7 linked regions of the Homo sapiens genome follow. The protein of the gene in region 2 purifies or fractionates together with the protein of the main gene of each other region. This does not show direct contact. Each region holds a gene or a part of one and is shown on either strand. Other genes may lie near its edges. The genes, in order: TRMT1, GARS1, CCT8, CPNE1, SUCLG2, CTNNA1 and TUBA8.

Region 1 (3,500 bases), on a different chromosome or scaffold from region 2:
CCTCCCAAAGTGCTGGGATTACAGGTGTGAGCCACTACGCCCAGCCCAGTCAGCAGATTTAGTTATTTTTATTTTTATTTATTTATTTATTTATTTATTTGAGACGGAGTCTTACTCTGTCACCCAGGCTGGAGTGCAGTGGCGCTATCTCGGCTCACTGCAAGCTCTGCCCCCCGGGGTTCACGCCATTCTCCTGTCTCAGCCTCCCGAGTAGCTGGGACTACAGGCACCTGCCACCACGCCCGGCTAATTTTTTTTTTTTTTTTTTTGTATTTTTAGTAGAGACAGGGTTTCACTGTGTTAGCCAGGATGGTCTCAATCTCCTGATCTCGTGATCCGCCTGCCTCGGCCTCCCAAAGTGCTGGGACTACAGGCATGAGCCACCGCACCCAGCTATTTTTTTATTCTTTTTGAGATGGAGTCTCGCTCTGTCGCCCAGGCTGGAGTGCAATGGCGCGATCTAGACTCACCGCAACCTCTGCCTCCCAGGTTCAAGCGATTCTCCTGTCTCAGCCTCCTGAGTAGCTGGGATTACAGGCACCCACCACCACACCATGCCCAGCTAATTTTTGTATTTTTAGTAGAGATGGGGTTCCACCATGTTGGCCAGGCTGGTCTTGAACTCCTGACCTCAGGTGATCCACCTGCCTCAGCCTCCCAAAGTGCTGGGATTACAGGCGTGAGCCACCTACCCAGCCCCAGTCAGCAGATTTTGAATCTCACTTGAAGAATGGGCACGAGTCTGTGTGGGGCAGCATCTGTGTTGTCTGCACACACATGTGCTTCCATGTCTGTGGGCAGCCCTGGCCGCTCCTGCATGTGCTTGCCCCTACCTGGGCTCCACACTGAGAATGCGGAACGCTGGGCTAGTCTCTGATAGTCGCTCCCGTTTCACCGGACATTCCTTCTCCTGGGGGCAGAGGTCAGAGGTTAGGGAATACTAGGCCCAAGGGACCTCCAGGTGACCACCACCTGCCCTCCCACCTGCATGAGGTCAGCCCTGCCCTCACCCAGCAACGCATGATGTCCCAGAGGGCAGAGGCAGGGGCATCCGTCTTCACAGCGTTCTTACAGGCGTGGGAGAGTGAGACCCGGAAGTCAGCGTGGAGGAGGGCCGACCTGGGGAACAGCAGGGATTATGAGGGAGATGCCGGACTCCTTGACCCCAAAGCCCAAGCTGACCAGCGTAGGTAAGACTACCTTCGGCAAGGGCTCATGGCTACAGAGTTCATTTCTTTTCTTTTCTTTTTTTTTTTTTTTTTTTTTTTGAGATGGAGTCTCGCTCTGTCGCTCAGGCTGGAGTGCAATGGCGCAATCTTGGCTCACCACAGCCTCCGCCTCCTGGGTTTAAGCGATTCTCCTGCCTCAGCCTCCCGAATAGCTGGGACTATAGGCATGTGCCACCACGCCCAGCTAATTTTTGTATTTTTAGTAGAGACAGGGTTTCACCATGTTGGCCAGGATGGTCTCGATCTCTTAACCTTGTGATCCGCCCGCCTCAGCCTCCCAAAGTGCTGGGATTACAGGAGTGAGCCACCGTGCCTGGCCTTCTTATTTATTATTTTTTTGAGGTGGAGTCTCACTCTGTCGCTCAGGCTGGTGTGCAATGATGCAATCTTGGCTCACTGCAGCCTCTGCCTCTCAGGTTCAACCAATTCTCCTGTCTCAGCCTCCTGAGTAGCTGAGATTACAGGGATGTGCCATGACGCCTGGCTAATATTTTGGTATTTTTAGTAGAGATGGGGTTTCGCCACGTTGACCGGGCTGGTCTCGAACTCCTGGCCTCAAGTGATTCGCCCGCCTCAGCCTCCCAAAGTGCTGGGATTACAGGCATGAGCCACCACACCTGGCCTTTTTCTTTTTCTAATTATTATTATTATATTTTAAATGGAGTCTCGCTCTGTTGCCCAGGTTGATGTGCAGTGGCGCAATCTTGGCTCACCACCGCCTCCTCCTCCTCCCAGGTTCCAGTGATTCTCGTGCCTCAGCCTCCCAAGTAGCTGGGACTACAGGCATGTGCCACCACACCCAGCTAATTTTTGTATTTTTAGTAGAGACAGGGTTTAACCATTTTGACCACGCTGGTCTTGAACTCCTGACCTCAAGTGATCTGCCCACCTCAGCCTCCCAAAGTGCTGGGAATATAGGCATGAGCCAATAAGCCTGGCCTAATTTTTTTTTTTTTTTTTTTTTTTTAAAGAGACAGGGTCTCATTTTGTCACCCAGGCTGGAGTGGCATGATCATAGCTCACTTTAGCATCAAACTCCTGGCCCAAATGATCCTCCCACCTCAGCCTCCTGAGTAGTTAGGACTATAGGCATGTATCACCATGCCAGGCTAATGGGTGTGTGTGTGTGTGTGTGTGTGTATACATACGTATGTATGTGTGTGTATATGTATGTGTGTGTACATATATATTTATTTATTTATTTGTTAGAGATAGGGTCTTACTACGTTGCCCAGGTTGGCCTCAAGTGATCTTCCTGCCTCAGCCTCCCAAGGTACTGGGATTACAGGAATGAGACAGTGCACCGGGTTCTCCCCACCCCCTCGCAAGTTCTATGCATGAGAATCCCTGGACTTGCCCCAGGCCACCCTGTGGTCTGGGACAGGCTCCTCCCGACCCCAGGGGCTCTTACCGCAACTGCAGGAGGCTTGGTGTGTTGCAGTGGATGGTGCTGCTCAGCTGGTCCAGGGTGTAGTACAGAGGCACGTCCGGGAGCTCCTGCGATGGGGGACAGGATGGGCATGAGTGGAGATGGACGGGCACAGGTGGAGCCCCCTTCCCCGTCACAGCCCGGCTCTCACCTCAGTGATGACGCTCAGGACCCCTCGGATCCGCTCCGAGGTGTGGAAGCGGCCGGGGTTAGCGCTCACAGCCTCCAGGACACGGCCCACAAAATCCAGGTCATGGATGGGCTCTGCCCACATGGGGCCACCAAGCTGGGGGCGCACCGGGGACAGGTGAGCAGGGACTATGACCTTCAAGACCCTCTTGCTCCTTTGCCTCCCCTGGCCTAGCCCTACCTGGTGTCGTTGCCCACAGTGTTCACACTCGGGGGTCACAGGGGGACCACAGGCTGCAGAGAACTTGGCCCTAAACAGAGAGGGGTGGTTGGTGGGGAGGGAGGAAAACCCTGGGACTCCCCTTCTTCTCCTTCCTCCCTGCTCACCGGCCGCTGGGGACTCCTGACGCTTTGCCGAGACGCTGAAGGTGGAAGGCCCCGCAGCCCACACACTGGAACACCAGCGCCTGCTTGCTGTGGGGGGTACCAGTGGCCACGAGTTCCCAGCGTGACCACGACACCCCAACTCCTCCCTTAGACTGGCTCTGTCCCTTAAGAAGCCCCAGATCCCCCAGGGCAAGGTCCTGTCTCCTCTCTCAATCCACCACCGCTCTCTGCCCCCGGGCTGACCTGGCTGAGGCCTTGACCTTGGCCTGGCCGGTGAAGACACGGACAAAAACACGCACGTAGAAGTCAGCGCTGATGCTGAGCAG
Region 2 (3,500 bases):
TCATTTTGACATATGTCAAGCAAGCTTGCTAAGAAAATCCTAACAGATTACAGTAATTCTTTCTAATTCCACAAGGGAAAAAGAATATATTAAAAACAACATCATTAATAGCCATTTATAAACATATGCATATTATTATGCATTTATGCATGCATGTGTTAGAACACGTAGAAAAATCATCTAGAGAAGGCAGACATACCCAAGACCATGGAGCTAAGCATGATCTTTTTTCGTCTGTTTGTTTGAGACAGGGCCTCACTCTGTCACCCAGGCTTGAGTTCAGTGGTGCAATCATGGCTCACTACAGCCTCAACCTCCCGGGCTCATGTGATCTTCCCACCTCAGCCTCCCAAGTAGCTGAAACTACAGGGGCGTGCTATCACACCTGGCTAATTTTTGTATTTTTTGTAGAGACAGGGTCTTGCTATGTTGCCCAGGCTGGTCTCAAATTTCTGAGCTCAAGCAATCTTCCCACCTCGGCCTCCCAAAGTGCTAGGATTACAAGCATGAGCCACCACACCCAGCCAGTTTGGACATTTTTTAAAAGCTGTTTTTTACAAGCTGTAAAAAACAACAAAGTTATGTGACAGAGACTCATAAAGCTAAAAATATTTACCATCTGGTCCTTTATAGAAAATGTTTGCTCAATACAGAGAAGAGACATAAAACACCTGGGGAGAGGCATATAACTGGAAGTTTAATTTTCTACATAATAGTCTTCAGAATTATTTTTTCCTTTTTGTTTTAAAAAAAGTAGTCATTACTTTTTAAAATATGACTAATTTTGATTTTTAATTTTTAAAAATCCATAAAAAGAAAGCCATTCTGAAAAGTAAAAACTGAACCAAGGGTATACTGGAACCAGTGACCCCTGGACTAAAGTCTCTTTCTATGTAGGCGAGGAAGCCTCTCTAACACCCAATAAGAGAAATGCCAAAAGACTCTCAGCCTTGTTTTAGATGCCACATTTCCTCCTGCCACCAATATAGACAGCATCTCCTATATGCAAATGCCTTTCGTCCCTCCGCTTCAATACTGATGTTCATGTTTGGTGGTGGAGGCTGGAGGGGTGACAGGGCACAGGGGCAGGAGGGTACCTGGAGATCGTCTGTGAATTTTGAGTTAAATACATAACATTTGAGGAAGGTAGTTCTTAAGCCAGAGATCAGAATCAACTAGTATATTCCCCAAAGCTACTACATAGCTCATTGAGCTAAGAGCACTATGACTTTCTTTATTCAACCTCTCCACCATTTCCAATGTTTGCTGGGACTCTTGCCAGGAAGGAGAGGCCAATGTGTCTTAGATCCACTCCAGGATATTGCCAGTAATGCTGCCAATACACTGTACAGCAGTGTACACATCCGCACTGTCCCATCATACACTAACTCTGTCTCTCAGCTATCTAAGACTACAACGAGCTCCTTAGGACACTTATAAAAAGGCAGGAGGCAACTGCTTTTTCTGTTTTGCTCAGGAAAAGATCTCTTTTCTTTTCCCTTTGTTCCTCTGTGACATAAAGTGCACAAAAATTCATTTGGTACCTGTGCTTCTAAGTTAACAATGTGAAAATCACATGGTAAACAGCACTCCACTTACGTAGGATGTTTTGGATTCTGCATCCCAACAGTCACAGGCATAATGGGCCATCTCATTCTCCATGTGCTGCCGGAAGCGGAGTTTATCTGGAGATATTCCAACCTTCGTGAGGTAGAGGTAGATGCGGCCAATGAAATAGCCTAATACTGTGTTATTAATCACACCCTAAACCAACCAATAAGCAAGCATGGAGGAAGAAAAGAAAACACACATTAATACTCTTCAAAGCCAAGATATCGGTTTCCATTGACTCACTCTACTGAAAAATATTTGACACCCAACACAAACTATTTTATCTTGCTTTCAAAACAATTTCAAATACTCAGAATGAGATCTTGGTTATTTTTTAATGGGTTAATGTCAAGATGATGATAATGGAGTTATTCAAAATCTGTCCAACATACTTACTGGGTCAGCAAAAATTCAGCCCAGTACCTCATACCTCTAAATCTACAGTACTAAAAACAATATTCATAATTGACACTAAAGAATGGCAAAGACATTCCCCTCTGAATTAACCAAAGTAATGACACGTTGAGGGGATTTTAATGTATCCTTACCCACTGAAATTTGTGAACCCCGTAGAGTACACGTAATCATTTTAGTGTTTGCAAGGACCTTAGAAAACATCTAGCCCCATCTCCATACACTGCAGAGGTCTTCTCTGCAAAGTGGCTGACAAGCTATCGTCCAACCTTGCCAGGAGTATTTTCAGGGCCAGGAAGCTCACTGCTCCCTGAGGCAACTCATTCCACTAGTGGACAGCAGCTACTGTTGGCAAGTTTTCACGCACTCACTTCTCCAGGCAAATATTTACAAAGTGCTTATATGCAAGGCCTTATTCCACTGCTATGGGTAATACAGAAGAGTCTGAAACCCAGATGGCTTGCTTTCTGTGGGTCCAATGCTGTCTCCCCCAAAGTAGTACATACTGTTGAGTCAGATTGGTGAGGCACAATGCAAACCAAGATCTATTTTCCAAGTGCTCTGCTAAACATTTTTTTTCATGCTAGCCCCAAGGCCCACAAATTGAGATGTTCAGGTGATTTTTCTCTTACTATAATAATACTGTATAACAAATTCTGTACAAAACCAAGTACTGTAAAAAAGCAAATGACTGCCAAAATAAAATATCTTGTCACCCAGAACACATAGAATTTGCTAATTGCTGCAAACCCTGAACAGGCACAATCTAAGTTAAGTTACCTCCAGAATCCTACCTGTTCAACAGCATCTCCCAGGCGCATTTTCCGAGCGGACTGTCCGCTGACCTGGGCTTTTGCTGAATACAAATAAAGGTGAAGGTCTGCCACATTCTGGAACTTGGGGTGGTCTTTCTCACTGGGATCTACAAAGTGCTCAATTTCTGCCATTGTGAATTCTCTGAAAGCAAAAACGTAAGCGATAAACCTGCATATTTAACTACAAAAAACAAACAAACAAAAAACAAGGCCTCTATTTTCAACTGCATTCTAGTGATAAAGGCTCCATACTATAGTGGTCTTTTTCACTAAACAGAAAGTTGGTTTCCTAAGGGAATGGCCAAAAAAATTTTGAATTAAATTTGTCTGGGTAGTTGTTATTTTTATTTTTTTGATGTATTATATTTGTACAAATTTATGGGGTACATGTGAAGGTTATTTTTAAACACATTAATGAAAATTTTATTACTCACTATTTAAAATAAACATGATCTAACTTCTCTGAAGTATTAATTCCTTCCCTCCAGCTACATCCAAAAAGATTATTACTTTTAACTGAAAATAACTTGTTAAAGGCAGATTAATATAGTTTTTTAAATTAGGAAAACATACGCAAAAATCACATGAAAAATAAGAAATAAGATATTGAATAGTGACATGCAGATAAAATGGTTTTCCTTAAAGCATTAGCAAGTCTTT
Region 3 (3,500 bases), on a different chromosome or scaffold from region 2:
TCTTGGTATAATTATGTACTGCATATAAAACACTACAGCACAGAGTTTGCTAGCTCCCTTGTTAGAAATTCAATTGTAAACTTTCAGCGCATGAGAAAGTTTACTGCTTTTATGGATAACCGCAATAAAATCCACAGAGATTAGTGAACATTCCAAGACATGCACTTCAATAACTCAAAAAGCTGAAAGTGAAAATATGTGCATGCATCACTGGTGTAAGTCGGTCAGTTTGGCACCTGATTTGCTATTTATATATGAGATGTGTCTTGCCAACCATCTCTGTCCCAATTTCCTTGTGGTTTAGGAGCTTTAGGCCCACCTGCCAGCTTTGCCATTATAATCTAAAGTAGTTGATACATAAGTATATACAAAGTTTAACACTGAAATTTTCTAAAACCTGTAAATGAGAATCATTCAAGCAGCCAGGAATTTTCATAAACAAAAATCTAAGTTCCCAACTTAAAAAAAAAAGCGCCACAAACCTCACCTTACTTTATCTAAAATAAATAGGTTTTAGCTTTTTTTTTTTTTTTCTTTTTGAGACGGAGTCTTGCTCTGTTGCCCAGGCTAGAGAGTGCAGTGGCGCGATCTTGGCTCAATGCAACCTCTGCCTCCTGGGTTCAAGCAATTCTCCTGCCTCAGCCTCCTGAGTAACTGGGATTACAGGTGCCCATCACCATGCCCGGCTAAGTTTTTACTTTTAGTAGAGACGGGGTTTCACCACGTTGGCCAGGCTGGTCTCAAACTCCTGCATGATCCACCCGCCTCAGCCTCCCAAAGTGTTGGGATTATAGGTGTGAGCCACTGCGCTCGGCTGGAAAACATCTTAATTACCATCTGCAAACCTGAACTGGGCAGTGGCTCATGCCTGTAATCCTAGCACTTTGGGAGGCCAAGGTTTGAGGCCAGGAGTTTGAGACCAGCCTGGGCAACAAAGTGAGACCTAGTCTACAAAAACTAAAAATATATATATATATAAAATATATATATAACATTTGATAATATATATATGATATATGTATCATATATACGATACATATATCATACATATATCATATATAATATATATCATACATATATGTATGATATATATATCATGTATATGTATGATATGAGATATATATGATATATATGAGATATGTATGATATATACATATGTATGATATATACATATGATATGTGTGATATATACATATCAGATATATATGATATATATCTCAGCCAACCATGACAGCACCTGCCTACAGTCCCAGCTATTCGGGATGTTAAGGCAGAAGAATCACTGGAACTCAGGATTTTGAGGCTGTGGTGAGCTGATTATGATTGTGCCACTGTCCTCCAGCCTGGGTGATAGAGTAAGACCTTATCACAACAACAACAAAAAAGATACCTAAACCTGAAATTCTCAGAATAACATGTTACCAATTGAGAGTAATTTCAGACTGAATTAAAGGCATTAAGCATAATTTTAGAACCTAAGTGCACATTGATTTTAAAAAGTAACTAAAAGCTGGGTGTGGTGGCTCATGCCTGTAATCCCAGCACTTTGGGAGGCCAAGGCGGACAGATCACGAGGTCAAGAGATCGAGACCATCCTGGCCAACATGGTGAAACCCCGTCTCTACTAAAAATACAAAAAAAAATTAGGTGGGCATGGTGGCATGCGCCTGTAGTCCCAGCTACTCGGGAGGCTGATGCAGCAGAATTGCTTGAACCTGGGAGGTGGCGGTTGCAGTAAGCTGAGATCACACCACTGCACTCCAGCCTGGTGACAGAGCAAGACTCCATCTCAAAGAAAAAAAAGAAACAAACACTAAAACAAGTAGTTCCCAAACTTTAGTGGGCACCATAATCAAAAGTGCTCATTAAAACAGACTGCTAGGCCTCTTCCAGCATTTCTGATATTGGTGGGTCTGGAGTGACATCTGAGAATCTGTATTTCTTCTTTTTTTTTTTTTTTTGAGATGGAGTCTTGCTCTGTCGCCCAGGCTGGAGTACAGTGGTGCCATCTCTACTCACTGCAGGCTCCACCTCCCAGGTTCATGCCATGCTCCTGCCTCAGCCTCCCGAGTAGCTGGGACTACAGGCATCTGCCACCACGCCCAGCTAATTTTTTGTTTTTTTTAGTAGAGACGGGATTTCACCATGTTAGCCAGGATGGTCTCAACCTCCTGACCTCGTGATCCTCCTGCCTTGGCCTCCCAAAGTGCTGGGATTACAGGCGTGAGCCACCGCGCCTGGCCTCCAAGAATCTGTATTTCTTATTTATTTTTAGTTTTTTAAAAGATGGAGTGTCACTCTGTCAACCAGGCTGGAGTGCCATGATGTGATCACAGCTCACTGCAGCCTTCAACTCCTGGGCTCAAGTGATCCTCCCACCTCAGCCTCCTGCGTAGCTGGGACTACAGGTGTGAGCCACCATACCTGGCTGAGAACTGTCATTCTAACAAGTTCTCAGGTGATGTTGATACTATTTTGGGACCATACTTTGAGAACTAGTGAAATAGACATTCCAACAAAGATTAATCCAGTCCGTACTACACTATCCAATGCTTAAAGCTTGATGTGCAATTCCTTTTCTAGAATATATACTATACAAATTTAGGTTCATTATACTATACACTATATACACAAACTGGTTAATACAGTTGGATGGGTTCTTTAGATACATACTTCACATAGAGTGCAAAGACTGGGGGAACAGATCAACCAACAACTTCCCCTACCATAAGATAAAGCAGACTTCCTAGTTTAAAGCCAAAATTCAAACTGCCTTTGTGACCAAGGGTGGTGGTTATTGTCTTGCTTGAATAATTGACATTCAAAGTTCCTAACACAGTTGGAATTTCTGCGTTCCTTATGCTGCAGTCTACTTAGCTTCTTCCGTCCCTGCTATTTTTGGTTTCCCCTTTTATTCTTAGCCACATTCTAATTTCTAGAATAAGTATTTTCTTAGGTTTCTATTTAAGAACTCAAACATATTCTTCCATTGAAAATCACCTAATAAGCTGACAGAGAAACCCGTTAATCTGGTACATAAACATCTAGTTTCTGCTTATTTTCAATGACTTGAAACTAAATATCCAGTTCCATTTTTGGTCATCTCTTGCTATCATAGTTCTTCCAATAAATTTGTTATAATTACCACCAACTGGTCCTTACTGTACTTAAAAGCTGAAATGTCTTTCCACTGATTTCTACTTAGGACTTACTCCACCTTTAATATGACATATGACTTTTACCTAATGGATGTATACTGTCCCTCTAGCAAATTAAAATTTTCTATTAAGTACTTATAAATAGTCATTGCTTATTAATTACTTCTAGAATTTTGTGGGGAAATGTATTTAATTAAGTTTGCCAGAAAATACCTTTTGGAAAAATAATTATGATTTCAGGTTTACTTCTATATATAGAACAGTCTACCACAATTCTTCAAAAAAAAAAAAAAAAGGGTAGAAATATGATTTTAAACACCTTTAACATCTTTTAGTATCTCA
Region 4 (3,500 bases), on a different chromosome or scaffold from region 2:
TGAACAGAAGTGGTGGCAGTAACTACACTGGGTGATGGATTATTAAAGTTGGATACTGTTGTGGGCAAGTTTACCCTGCTACTCATTCCTGAGCTAGGTGGTGGTCCTGATCTACTGGCATTTGCTGGTGGTATATCTAAGTTGGCAGTTTCAAAACGCCTACGACTCAGTTCAATCATATTCTGCATTTCCGTCTTACTACTCAACAATAGTGTTACTTTTGACCCTTTAATTGTACCACCTGTGCGCATCATACCAAGCCTTGCATCTTCATCAGTGGCAAAAACGATGAAAGCCTCACCCAGTTCACCCCCTACAATATGCACGCCCCCATCAGGAATGGTCAATCCAGAGAAGAAGTGGCGAATGTCCATGGTCCCCGCCACAATTGGGAGACCTTGCAAACGGATGACCACAGCCATGCTGCGCTGAAACCACACACACCTGCAGATGAGAAAAGGCAACGGCCAGGTCAGACTCCTGTTTATCACACCAAGTTTTTAGCTACAAGAATGACCAGCTACCATATTAGGCCCTCAAATATTCCCTCAAGCTATCACAGGCAATGTCTTTAATTTAGATATTCTAAAAACTGAACATTACGTGCCATTTACAATGTAAAACGTAGACAATTTCAACTTCCAGAAGGCATTAATTTTGGAAACAGTTCAGTCCCAAGACTCAAAAAGTTCAAGAAAAAACAACTGTAGGACAGTAAAATACATATACATCATTCAGACCACTAATCATTCAGTAAGATTTAAAAGAAATGTCTAAGTCAAATCAGGAAACAAAGTTTAACAATCTATAGGGAAAAAACATGCAAAGAATATATAGAAGTTAGTATTTAAAACTGGCTTAGCATCTTCCCTATATACTTGATAATTTCATAGAATTATCAAGAGTGTGATTTTATAGAGCTCAGTCTCAAAATCCATCCAACAGAAGCAAAAAACTAGAATACTAATGAATTGTAAATAATACTTAAGACTAAAAGTAGATTCAAGTCTTAAATGAGAACTGGTTCCATTATTTTATTCATCCTAAAACTTTTCAATCTGCCTTGTACATTACAAAAAACTACATATGGAATTATTTATTATAAACAAGGTTAAGACATACTAAGAAGCCAAAAGAACTACTGAATAGGACAGCTAAAATCTGAGTTACCTTGATTCATTACCCCCAAAAGTAGAACCTGGTTATAGTCCCATTCACTGTGACTATTTTAATTAAAACTCAGGTCCAATGACTCATAACCAAATCCTCTATTTAATAAAATTTTTTAAAGTATTATTTTCCCCTAGGAGAGGGCTGACAATAAAAATATTTTTTGTTTTTGTTTTAGAACCAGAGTGTGAATTACTCAGTGGTTGTTACAGTCTTGGACCTACACAACTCCTACAGGATCTCTGTGATCTCCTTAGATCATGCCTGTTTTGACATAATCAAAAAAGAAATGTTCCCCTCAAATTTCAGTATTTCAGTTCCAAAGGCTTCTAAGAGCAAATTCAAGGGCAGCCCTTTGGAAAGTGACACAAACCGAATTATTGGGCCTGGGAAACATACTACTTTGAAATTAAGGTGGTCAATAACATAGGGTGTTTTCCAACCCATCTGAAAAGTCAACTTTTATTTATTTATTTATTTTGAGACAGAGTTTCACTCTTGTAGCCCAGGCTGCAGTGCAACGGCACGATCTCGGTTCACGGCAACCTCCACCTCCCAGGTTCAAGTAATTCTCCTGCCTCAGCCTCCCAAGTAGCTGGGATTACAGGCATGCGCCACCATGCCTGGCTAAGTGTTTGTATTTAGGAGAGATGGGATTTCACCTGACCTCAGGTGATCCACCCTCCTCAGTCTTCCAAAGTGCTGGGATTACAGGCGTGAGCCACTGCGCCCCACCTGAAAAGTCAACTTTTAAATATAAGCCCATAAAATCAGCTCATGACCCTCAGAAAGGTTATAAATTAATGAAGAGATTTGGTTTTATCACTTCTCAAGAATATTAGAAGGGGCAAGATTTTCTACTATAAGCTCTAAGAATTCTGTAACTTCATTGTCAAATATTATATAAATACTAATGCAACAAAATCTGTAATTATATCTCAATATTACAACTGCCGTATACAAACAAGAAACAAACTGCTTGGCTTTGACAGTTTTCTCACAGACACATACACAAAAATAAAAAGCCACCTTCAAATTTAATCCAGAAAAATGGACTAGCAAACAGAAAATGCTTTTTGTGAGGCCATTATAAAGCACTAGAAATTTGGGAAGTGTGGGGAAGCTTTTCATTTACAAACTTCAAGAGTCAACAAGAAAAATTAACGCTAAAAAACATCACACCAACAGTCTCTTTTCTCATTTACTATTTAGCAGCCTATAAGGAGGTTCATCAAGCAGTTTCCAAGTCATTAAATCAAATTCACATTCCTTGCTCAATCTAGAATATGTGGCTGTATGCAAAATGTGATAGCATTTCCTGTTCAACTTCAAAAAACGGTTAATCACTTTGTATAGGGGAAACATCATGGGCAATCCAGGTACTCAAAACAACTTGAGAGAGAGAGAGAGACTAGTTTGCACTGGGACAATCAAACAGAAACTTGATATAGTCCCAAGAACACAAAAATTAAACACAGGGCTAAAGTGACATACACAGTTAAGTCTTCAAGCCATTTTCTGTTAAGAGCAGGGATTTACTGAAAGTTTGTACAAGGTACACATGAGAATATGCTATTGAAAATCTGCCTCAGATTACCAGCTGGAAAGGGCTGAATATTAAACCAAAGTGGAATACAAGATTTATTCATAAAGCCATCTGATGAGAAAAATTGTTTCTAGCTTCCAAAAAATATGAAATAATATCCGCAGCCAGGTGCGGTGGCTCACACCTGTAACCCCAGCACTTTGGGAGGATGAGGTGGGTGGATCACCCGAGGTCAGGAGTTCAAGACCAGCCTGGCCAACAAGGTGAAACCCCGTCTCTACTAAAAACACAAAAAATTAGCTGGGCATGGTGGCAGGTGCCTGTAATCCCAGCTACTAGGGAGGCTGAGGCAGAAGAATCACTTGAACCCGGGAGGCAGAGATCACGCCACTGCACTCCAGCCTGGGCAACAAGAGCGAAACTCTGTCTCAAAAAGAAATAAATAAATAAAACAAATAAAAATTTAAAAAAAAATTTAAAAAAGTATCTGCTTTTCTGTTACTAAGTAACTGTTTGACAGCTAAGTCATTTCAACCTAACTTGGGCCTATCTTAGTTACTTAAACAAGAGGGTTAGATTCCACTTGCTAAGGTTCCATTTAAAGTCTAAAATTTGTACTCTAAAACATGTGACCCATTATCTATACTTAAACTCTTAGGAAATATAAATAAACATATCAATAACAAGCATCTGTATTTGTAATTAGTCTAAAATGCTACTAAGGAATAAAACTTACTGCCTATCAGGAAAATCACAAGATAAATAGATCCATATAAATGAAATT
Region 5 (3,500 bases), on a different chromosome or scaffold from region 2:
GGTTATTTTCAGAAACTCACTAAGAAAGGAACAAAATTTAGTGAAGACGTTGCATACTTAGGCTACTGCGTATAAAAATAGCAATTAAGAGCAAAGACTTTGGAGTTATCCAGACCCAAGTTATACCAACTCAGAGTCCAATAATATAATTATCAATGTCTAGGTTGTTGTCTACTTCTATATAAAATCTATTTTATGCCTGTAATCCTAGCACTTTGGGAGGCTGAGGTGGGCAGATTGCCTGAGCTCAGGAGTTTGAGACCAGCTGGAGCAACATGGGAAACCTCATCTCTGCTAAAAATACAAAAAATTAGCTGGGCATGGTGGCATGTGCCTGTAACCCCAGCTACTCAGAAGGCTGAGGCAGGAGAACCGCTTGAACCCGGGAGGCAGAGGTTGCAGTGGGCCAAGATCACACCACTGCACTCCAGCCTGGGTGACAAAGTGAGACTCTGTCTAAAACAAAAAACAAAAATAAAACCCCAACTCATATTAGAGTTAATTTTTTCCTCTGTCCTTTTAGCTTGTTTTTCTAAAGGATGGTTAAGTCGTCTTATTCAGACAAAAATTGCATTTCATATATGGGATTTTTTTTTCTTTTCTAATACCGTTCAGGATTGGGGCAAGAGGCAATGTTAAATAAAAACAGAAATTTGAGTTTTGGGAGAGATCAGATCTTTAAATAAATAGAAACAGTGACATTTAGTACATGTGAATCAATTTGGTAAATACTGAATGAAGAGACGAGTTACTGTTGAGTGGGATTTGTCATCTTAATTTTCAGCACCTTGAGTAAATAAGCCTTGAATTAAATTACTTCATGAGAGTTTTTCTCAAGATGAGAAAAACTTGCTTTACTTTGGGCTGCTGACTTGCTGACTTACTATATTGATTTAGCACTTGAGATGTAATCAGAAGAGATGATTTTAGTGAACTCATTTTTGGCCTGGGGTGTATGTTGCAGATGTGCGTAGGTTGTTGTCTTTTTCTATTTGTCCTGATCTCTGGTTTCATAGTCTCTGAACTGGTTGCTTGTTCTACCAACACTGTTTTGCATGGAATACTTTGACTGGAGGTCAAATGGCGACACGTTTAATTGACAACACTTCATTGAGGATACAACTCTTTCTGTGTCTTGATGGTTAGTGACTAAAGCTGATCTAATCAAGCCTATGTAGTGCCAATTAACAATGCCCAATTAGGTATTCTCTCTGGCTTTCAAGTTTTGCTGCTGGAAAGCTCAGAGAGGAAAGCATCTCTTCAGGATGACAAGGATATGAAAAATGATAATGGCAATGGAATGCCAGTTATGTAAAGAATTTGAAGTGATCACAATTAAAAATTTGAGTAGACAGCAAAAAGTATTTTTTCCACTTGATGTCTTCCAAAGAAAAACAGGAAATGTCTTCCTGTGTGCCATTTTTTCTTAATTGCTGAAAATTATTATAATGTTGATAGCTATCATATTTTGACTTTAAAAAAATGTGCCAGGCACTTTACTGTATTTCATTTATTCTTCACATCATCCTTACACTGTAGACTTCTTTAATATGACTACTTTACAGAAGGGCATGCTACTTTTACCTTTCTGAATCTCAGTTGTTTCTTCTCTACAAAGAAAGTGATAGGTAGAGTTGGAGATTTTAACCAGGTCTGTTTAACTCCAATATCCTTGCTCTTACTACTGTTCTTGCAGTAAGCTAAATATGCAATGTATTCATTTTACTTGGTTGCTTTCCTTGTGAGTTTCTGACAATTAATTTGTCTTCTACTCAGCTTGATGGAAACCAGTTTATTATAAGACAGGGCTTGACCAATGTTGTGATGGTTCGTATCCAGGGCAGAAATTATTGCCAGAGGGTACACAGGACAGCCTTCTAAGAAAAAACTGTGTTTGCTTCTGAGAAGAAGGTGGGCTTCAGCTTTCTGAGTGTAAGCAAATATAGGAGACAAGAAGACTAACCAATGAAGGCAGTGAAGGAGCCTCAATGGTGTGACATCAGCTGGCTGAATGCCTTCTGTAAAATACTTCTGTAGCTCCCCATTGCCTTGATGATAAAACCTTCCACAGCTCTTTCCGTTTGAACCTTTACCTGCTTGCCTGTGGGTAACAATGATGATGACAGTGACAGTAATAGCTGAAATAACCAAACTTAATGGAGCGCTTGTTAGTTTTTTGGTTTAGCCATCTCTGTAATGATTCCTTTCATTCTTTACAATATACAAAGGTAATAAATGAACTAACTGGTCGAGGCAATAGTTTTTAATTAATCACAAGTTTTCAGGCTCTGGGATAAAGCATTCATGTGTGTTCATTTAATTTTTAAAACAACCCTTGTCATCATTTCACAGTTGAATAAACCGAGTTTCAGAGACATTAAGTAACTTGCCTAATGTCACACAGCTGGGTGAGGGATGAAGGCCAGATTGAAACCTGGGTTTGCAGATTCTAAATCTGGTATACTGAACCAGAATACTCTCATGGCCTTATAGGGGATCAGCTGGGTTCTGTGATTTTAAATAAAGATGACTCACAAACAGAGGATATCAGCTGTGGTCTGCAGTTGTGTGCTATTTGGTTTATTAAACATATTTGATTTGGAGGCAGTTTTTTGTTTGTTGTTGTTTTGTTTTGTTTTGGTGGTTGGGGAGGGGAGCTACCCTGTTTGCTAAAGGCCCCATTTGTCACTGGGCTACTTCATGCACCCAACTTCCCTGCAAGGGAAGATATTTGTGTTAATAACTCTCGTCTAAAAAGTCAAGATTAGAGAGTTCTTTCATTCGTGGAGTGTGATGAGAAACAAAGATTCCACAACCACTTTCCCCCAGGATATTTTGTTACCTTGCCAATGATTTTAAAATATTGCTTGCTTTTAGTTTTAATCCATTTCCTCCTCCCTTTCCCAACCCTATCAGTATATAGAACAACTGCTCAGAAAACTGTTGGTTTCCAATAATGCAGTTATTAACTATGACCTTTGTGTCTTGTCTTTAAACCTTCCCCCGCATAATCCAGTCTTCCCTTTGACATCTCTGATGGTTAGCTCCTCTTACTGGCCAACTGGTGCCTCTGCCACATGGGAGTGCCATTACACAGTAAAATTAATACCTCCTTCCAGGATTTATTTAGCTTCTTCTGACACACTCAAAAGAGCAAGGGAACACATGTCTTGCTTTCCCTTGGGAAGGTCAAGTATTAGATGATTAAACTGGTAGGAAGCATTTGAATATCCTCAGTAAACAAGCTTTGTATTTAGGCTCATAGATGTTTTTTTGAAGTTCTTCATTGCATTTATTTTCAAAGTTAGTTTGAGAGAGCTTTTACCAGTTACTTGGAAGTTATGTGCCATTATTGCTTTCCTTATTGCTTAAAAAACAAAAAAAGAATTTAAAATCAGCTACCAACTCTGGATTTTTCTTTTTCAGATGCAAAAGAAATTGTTTTAAAAGCCCAGATCTTAGCTGGAGGAAGAGGAAAAGGTGTCTTCAATAGTGGTTTG
Region 6 (3,500 bases), on a different chromosome or scaffold from region 2:
GCAGAGACGCTCCTCACTTCCCAGACGGGGTGGCGGCCGGGCAGAGGCTGCAATCTCGGCACTTTGGGAGGCCAAGGCAGGCGGCTGGGAGGTGGAGGTTGTAGCGAGCCGAGATCACGCCACTGCACTCCAGCCTGGGCACCATTGAGCACTGAGTGAACCAGACTCCGTCTGCAATCCCGGCACCTCTGGAGGCCGAGGCTGGCGGATCACTCGCGGTTAGGAGCTGGAGACCAGCCCGGCTAACACAGTGAAACCCCGTCTCCACCAAAAAAATACAAAAACCAGTCAGGCATGGCGGTGCGCGCCTGCAATCACAGGCACTCGGCAGGCTGAGGCAGGAGAATCAGGCAGGGAGGCTGCAGCGAGCTGAGATGGCAGCAGTACAGTCCAGCTTCAGCTCGGCATCAGTGGGAGACCGTGGAAAGAGAGGGAGAGGGAGACCGTGGGGAGAGGGAGAGGGAGAGGAGGGAGAGGGAGAGGAGGGAGAGGGGGAGGAGGGAGAGGGGGAGGAGGGAGAGGGGGAGGAGGGAGAGGGGGAGGGGAAATGTTTCTTAATCTGTCTTTTTTTTTTTTTTTTTTTTTTTAAACAGAGTCTTGCTCTGTGGCCCAGGCAGGAGTGCAGTGGCACCATCTCCACTCACTGCAAGTTCTGCTCCCCCAGGTTCATGCCATTCTCCTGCCTCAGCCTCCCGAGTAGCTGGGACTACAGGCGACCGCCACCACGCCCGGCTAATTTTTTGGTATTTTTAGTAGAGACGGGGTTTCACAGTGTTGACCAGGATGGTTTCGATCTCCTGAACTCGTGATCCACCCGCCTTGGCCTCCCAAAGTGCTGGGATTACAGACGTGAGCCTCCGCGCCCGGCTGCTTTGACATTTTTCAAGACTACAGCCAGTTATTTTGTAGATCGTCTCACGCTTTGAATTTGATGTTGCCTCATGACTAGTTGAGGTTATGTAATTTTCAGGCGAAATAACACAGAGGTGATGTTGTATCCTTCTCAGTGCATCGTGTTAGGAGATACGTGATGTGGGTTTGTGTCCTTATTAGGGACAGTAATTTTGATTACTTGGTTAAGGTGGCATCTCAGGTTTCTGGACTGTGAAGTTACTATTTCCCCCATCTGTCATAAATAAATAATCTGTTGGGAGTTACTATGACACTAGATCACGCTACTGAGAAACTGAATGCTAATCTACTTGGTTAGCATTCTTTGATTCTTGCCTGAGGCAATTAATATTATGGTTCCTGAATGCTGATTTTTCTAAATACATTGTTCTTTCTACATTTATTAGTTTGTTTCCTATTGTTTGGAAGAACTTTTCCTTCTTTATTCATATTAGCATGGACTCATGCATTAGTCAATGGATCATACTTTGTTCTATCTAATCTCCACTAAAGCTCTCTGAAGAAGGCAGTGGTTGGTAGTCTTTTATGAGGGATCTAGTTCAAAGTTACGTTTTTTTTTTGAGATGGAATCTTGCTCTGTTGCCTAGGCTGGAGTGCAGTGGCATGATCTCGGCTCATTGCAACCTCTGCCTCCCAGGTTCCAGCGATTCTCCTGGCTCAGCCTCATGAGTAGCTGCGATCACAAGCAACCGCCACTACGCCTGGCTAATTTTTGTATTTTTAGTAGAGAGAGGGTTTCACCACATTGGCCAGGCTGGTCTCGAACTCCTGACCTCAGGTGATCCACCCACTTTGGCCTCCCTAAGTGCTGGAATTACAAGCATGAACCACCATGCCTGGCCAGTTTTCACCCAGTAGTTTTGACATTCATTGCTAATCCTTGGCTGGATCAGTTTTTACCAGTGGGGGTTGCAAGATGGTCATTTTCTAATTCTATTCTAGATTCATGGTAAAGAAATTCCCTCCCCATACCCTTTCTTTTGAGGATCCCTATGGTCTTAAGGATATTTATTTAATTATTTAGTTACAGACAGTTACAGTCATTATTCTCTTTGATAGTTGTCCTAAATTTGGCTGATGGGAGCCCTTGCTTCCTGTGTCTTTTGATATGATCTTGTTAGTCTTGTCCCCTTTCCGCACAATACAGTGCTTCAGACCTGGAACTTTGGTTTCTATTAATGGGAAATGGTCCGTTTTTTAAAAAAAAAATAAGTAGAAATGGGATCTCTCTGTGTGGCCCAGGCTGGTCTCAAACTCCTGGGCTTAAGTGATCCTCCTGCCTTGGCCTTCCAAAGTGCTGGTATCACAGGCATGAACCACCATGCAAATGGTATTTAATAGAAATAAATACTTGGGCACTGATAACACTGGTTTTTTTTTGTTTTTGTTTTTTTTTTGAGACAAGAGCTTGCTCTGTTGCCCAGGCTGGAGTGCAGTGGTGCGATCTTGGCTCACTGCAACCTCCACCTCCCAGGTTCAAGTGGTTTTCCTGCCTCAGCCTCCTGAGCAGCTGGGATTACGGGCGTGTACCACCACACTGGACTAATTTTTGTAGTTTTAATAGAGACGGGGTTTCACTATGTTGGCCAGGCTGGTTGTTTTGTTTTTTAATTTGCCAACATTGTTTTTAAGAGTAACATTGTAGCCCGTTGTGTCATTGTTACATAATTTATTGAGTGATCTGTTGTTTGAAATTTAGGTAATTTATAACTTTTAATGTTTATATAAAGCAGTGTTGTGAACATCATTGTATCCCAGTTTTTACATGTTCCTTAACTTTAGAATAAGATTTTAGCAGTAGATTTTCTGGGTCATACAAATGTACTTTTTAAAGATTTTATTTTATTTATTTATTTTATTTTTTATTTTTTTGAGACGGAGTCTTGCTCTTTCGCCCAGGCCGGACTGCAGTGGCGCTATCTCTGCTACTGCAAGCTCCGTCTCTGGGGTTCACGCCATTTTCCTGCCTCAGCCTCCCGAGTAGCTGGGACTACAGGTGCCCGCCACTGCGCCTGGCTAATTTTTTTTTTGTATTTTTAGTAGAGACTGGGTTTCACCGTGTTAGGCAGGATGGTCTCAATCTCCTGACCTCATGATCTGCCCGCCTCAGCCTCCCAAAGTGCTGGGATTACAGGCGTGAGCCACTGCGCCTGGCCAAGATTTTATTTTTTTAATTTTTATTATTATTATTATTTTTTAAGATGGAGTTTTTTTCTTGTTGCCCAGGCTGGAGTGCAATGGCACAATCTCGGCTCACTGCAGCCTCTGCCTCCCGGGTTCAAGCGATTCTTCTGCCTCAGCCTCCCGAGTAGCTGGGATTACAGGCGTGCACCACCAGCCTGGCTAATTTTGTATTTTTAGTAGAGACAGGGTTTATCCTTGTTGGTCAGGCTGGTGTCGAACTCCCGACCTCAGGTGATCTGCCCGCCTTGGCTTCCCAAAGTGCTGGGATTACAGGAGTGAGCCACCACGCCCAGCCTTTAAGCTTTTAAATGTCTACCAGCAGTTTGTTGTCTAGAAAGTTTATATTAGTGTTTACCTCAGCTTCATGCCTTTTCTTTTCTTTTTTTCTTTAATAATTGAAGGCA
Region 7 (2,212 bases), on a different chromosome or scaffold from region 2:
TCCAAGAAGGTTGTTGAAGGTCTTGCCAAGTTCTGGCAGCATGGCAGGTCTCCCAGGCTCAGCCCAGACCCGTCTTACAGTGGTGCTGCTATCCTGGAAATCTCTCTTCTTCCCAACACACGTCCCAAACCAAAGCCAACCCCAGGAACCATGGGAAACTGGGACAAGTCTAATGTGGCAAACCGTGACATTACTTATGAGAACTATAGTGATGTCCTCAGCCACCTCTCCCACTGAGACCACCACATTTTAATCGCCAGTCTCTTAAATCCATAGCTTTAAAATGCACATCCTCCTGAGGGGCTGGTGTGGGAATGGCAGCCAGCTGTGTGGCAACATGGGTAGCCAGGCAGCCACTGGACCCACAGCAGCCGTCATTCCTCTTAGGCACAGGTGGCATCTTGGAGGTGGAGGTGATACTGGGAGAGGGGCAAAGTGGGGAAGGGAAAGGCAATGTATATGAATTTGGCCACATCACATACATTGCTAGAACTGAGCCGACTGCCATAAACCTTGTGCCTGGGCCAACCTGTTCTCCTCTAAGTGCTAACATCTCTTGACCTGAGTCAAGTGGGGACAAGTACTGTTGGAGAGAATGCAAGAAGATGAAGTTTAGCAGCATCCTCTCCAGGGAACATACTTTTCTTAGCTTATGCTAATGCTACCATAATGATCCTTCAGGACATAACTCCAGAGCTTCTGCTTTAAGGAGAGAGAATGAGGGGACATTTCCGCTTTGTTAATTTCCCCATCACCCACCATGTCTCTCATTCATTCTCTTTTTTCCCCATTCATTCTCCTACTAGCTGGTTGTTTGTTTCCATTTGAAAAAGAAAAAAGAATTTCATTTTTTGGAAGACCTTGACTGGTTTTGCCAGGATGATTAGAACTGTCACATAAAAAATAGGCATAGTCTTGGGGGGAAATTATATATGTAGCTAGAAGGATAGCAGTGAAAAGGAATGCTACACTCCTCACTCAGCAGAACAGCCAGGTCAAAGCCTCAGACCCATGCAGGGCAGCTATGAGGCCAGCACGCAGCTGGTGCCTCACACTTGTAACTCCCGCCAAGAAAACTGAGGCATGCTCATCTCTTCACCTCCAGCAACTGAGACAAACCCTGACACACAATAGGTACCAGTAAAACCTCTGAATGATTGAAAGCATGACTAGGGGCCAGGCTTGGTGGCTCACGCCTGTAATCCCAATGCTTTGAGAGGCTGAGGCAGGTGGATCACCTGAGGTCAGGAGTTCGAGACCAGCCTGGCCAACATGGTGAAACCCCATCTCTACTAAAAATACAAAAATTAGCCAGGCGTGGTGGTGCATGCCTGTAATCCCAGCTACCTGGGAGGCTAAGGCAGGAGAATCACTTGAACCCGGGAGGCAAAGTTTGCAGTGAGCCAAGATTGCACCACTGCACTCCAGCCCGGGCAACAGAGCAAGACTCCATCTCAGGGGAAAAATACAATAAAAAATAAAAAAAGAAATCCTGACTACAGGGCAGTAGTTAATGTGAATGTGGTAGCTGTTATGATGGCAGAATCTGACAAAAGACCATGGGTGGAGTGGCTGAGCTGTTCATGTGCACAGCCAGGCTGCTTGCCTGCCGGTCCAGCTCAGAGGGGTGACTTCTACCATTCAGCATTCCTGGTCCTGGGGCCCCAGGGTCTACCCTCGCTATTTTGTATCTCCCCACTGACTCTCTGAGCCTGGCATTTTCCAGACTGCGGGCACTTGGTTACCACCAGCCACACGGCTTGCTGGTTTTTGCTTACTCCTGGTTAATGGCAATGGAAAATAGCAATCATAGAACAACTATAAAAGTATCTTATTACTCCAAATTGATTAAGATGTGCAGGATAGATATTTTAAGTTTTCAAAATAAATTGGGAGAACACAGCTTTTTGTTAGAGAGAGGCATCATACTCCTCTGGCAACTGGAATAATTTGGTTAACTCTAAAATTAAAATGGCCACAAAATCATGCTGTACAAAGAAGTGTAAAATATCCATTAAAACTAACTTTAGGTTGGAGGCCAGGCGCGGTGGCTCCTGCCTGTAATCCCAGCCGAGACGGGCAGATCACAAGGTTAGGAGATCAAGACCATCCTGGCTAACACGGTGAAACCCCGTCTCTACTAAAAATACAAAAAATTAGCCGGGTGTGGTAGCAGGCGCCTGTAGTCCCAGTTACTCGGGAGGCTGAGGCA

The links.
Region 1: the proteins of GARS1 (region 2) and TRMT1 purify together in Homo sapiens (affinity purification with mass spectrometry, with the first as the bait; one large-scale study listed by BioGRID). This does not show direct contact.
Region 3: the proteins of GARS1 (region 2) and CCT8 fractionate together in Homo sapiens (co-fractionation; one large-scale study listed by BioGRID). This does not show direct contact.
Region 4: the proteins of GARS1 (region 2) and CPNE1 purify together in Homo sapiens (affinity purification with mass spectrometry, with the first as the bait; one large-scale study listed by BioGRID). This does not show direct contact.
Region 5: the proteins of GARS1 (region 2) and SUCLG2 purify together in Homo sapiens (affinity purification with mass spectrometry; 2 studies listed by BioGRID). This does not show direct contact.
Region 6: the proteins of GARS1 (region 2) and CTNNA1 purify together in Homo sapiens (co-immunoprecipitation; 2 studies listed by BioGRID and IntAct, with this or other methods). This does not show direct contact.
Region 7: the proteins of GARS1 (region 2) and TUBA8 purify together in Homo sapiens (affinity purification with mass spectrometry, with the first as the bait; one large-scale study listed by BioGRID). This does not show direct contact.

What each region holds. Positions count from the first base shown.
Region 1 is NC_000019.10:13,106,741-13,110,240, forward strand, and holds part of TRMT1 (tRNA (guanine(26)-N(2))-dimethyltransferase), read right to left. Parts: coding exon 3,418-3,500; intron 3,262-3,417; coding exon 3,175-3,261; intron 3,099-3,174; coding exon 3,029-3,098; intron 2,945-3,028; coding exon 2,810-2,944; intron 2,727-2,809; coding exon 2,641-2,726; intron 1,120-2,640; coding exon 1,011-1,119; intron 911-1,010; coding exon 834-910; intron 1-833. UniProt on the Homo sapiens protein: Dimethylates a single guanine residue at position 26 of most nuclear- and mitochondrial-encoded tRNAs using S-adenosyl-L-methionine as donor of the methyl groups. tRNA guanine(26)-dimethylation is required for redox homeostasis and ensure proper cellular proliferation and oxidative stress survival.
Region 2 is NC_000007.14:30,615,378-30,618,877, reverse strand, and holds part of GARS1 (glycine--tRNA ligase isoform 1 precursor), read right to left. Parts: intron 2,983-3,500; coding exon 2,820-2,982; intron 1,765-2,819; coding exon 1,600-1,764; intron 1-1,599. UniProt on the Homo sapiens protein: Catalyzes the ATP-dependent ligation of glycine to the 3'-end of its cognate tRNA, via the formation of an aminoacyl-adenylate intermediate (Gly-AMP).
Region 3 is NC_000021.9:29,056,649-29,060,148, forward strand, and holds part of CCT8 (T-complex protein 1 subunit theta), read right to left. Parts: intron 1-3,500. UniProt on the Homo sapiens protein: Component of the chaperonin-containing T-complex (TRiC), a molecular chaperone complex that assists the folding of actin, tubulin and other proteins upon ATP hydrolysis.
Region 4 is NC_000020.11:35,654,901-35,658,400, forward strand, and holds part of CPNE1 (copine-1), read right to left. Parts: intron 445-3,500; exon of another isoform or gene 423-444; coding exon of another isoform or gene 1-422. Other genes in the region: RBM12 (RNA-binding protein 12), read right to left, coding at 1-422.
Region 5 is NC_000003.12:67,529,113-67,532,612, reverse strand, and holds part of SUCLG2 (succinate--CoA ligase [GDP-forming] subunit beta, mitochondrial isoform 2 precursor), read left to right. Parts: intron 1-3,426; coding exon 3,427-3,500. UniProt on the Homo sapiens protein: GTP-specific succinyl-CoA synthetase functions in the citric acid cycle (TCA), coupling the hydrolysis of succinyl-CoA to the synthesis of GTP and thus represents the only step of substrate-level phosphorylation in the TCA.
Region 6 is NC_000005.10:138,777,425-138,780,924, forward strand, and holds part of CTNNA1 (catenin alpha-1), read left to right. Parts: intron 1-3,500. UniProt on the Homo sapiens protein: Associates with the cytoplasmic domain of a variety of cadherins. The association of catenins to cadherins produces a complex which is linked to the actin filament network, and which seems to be of primary importance for cadherins cell-adhesion properties.
Region 7 is NC_000022.11:18,127,809-18,130,020, reverse strand, and holds part of TUBA8 (tubulin alpha-8 chain), read right to left. Parts: intron 1-2,212.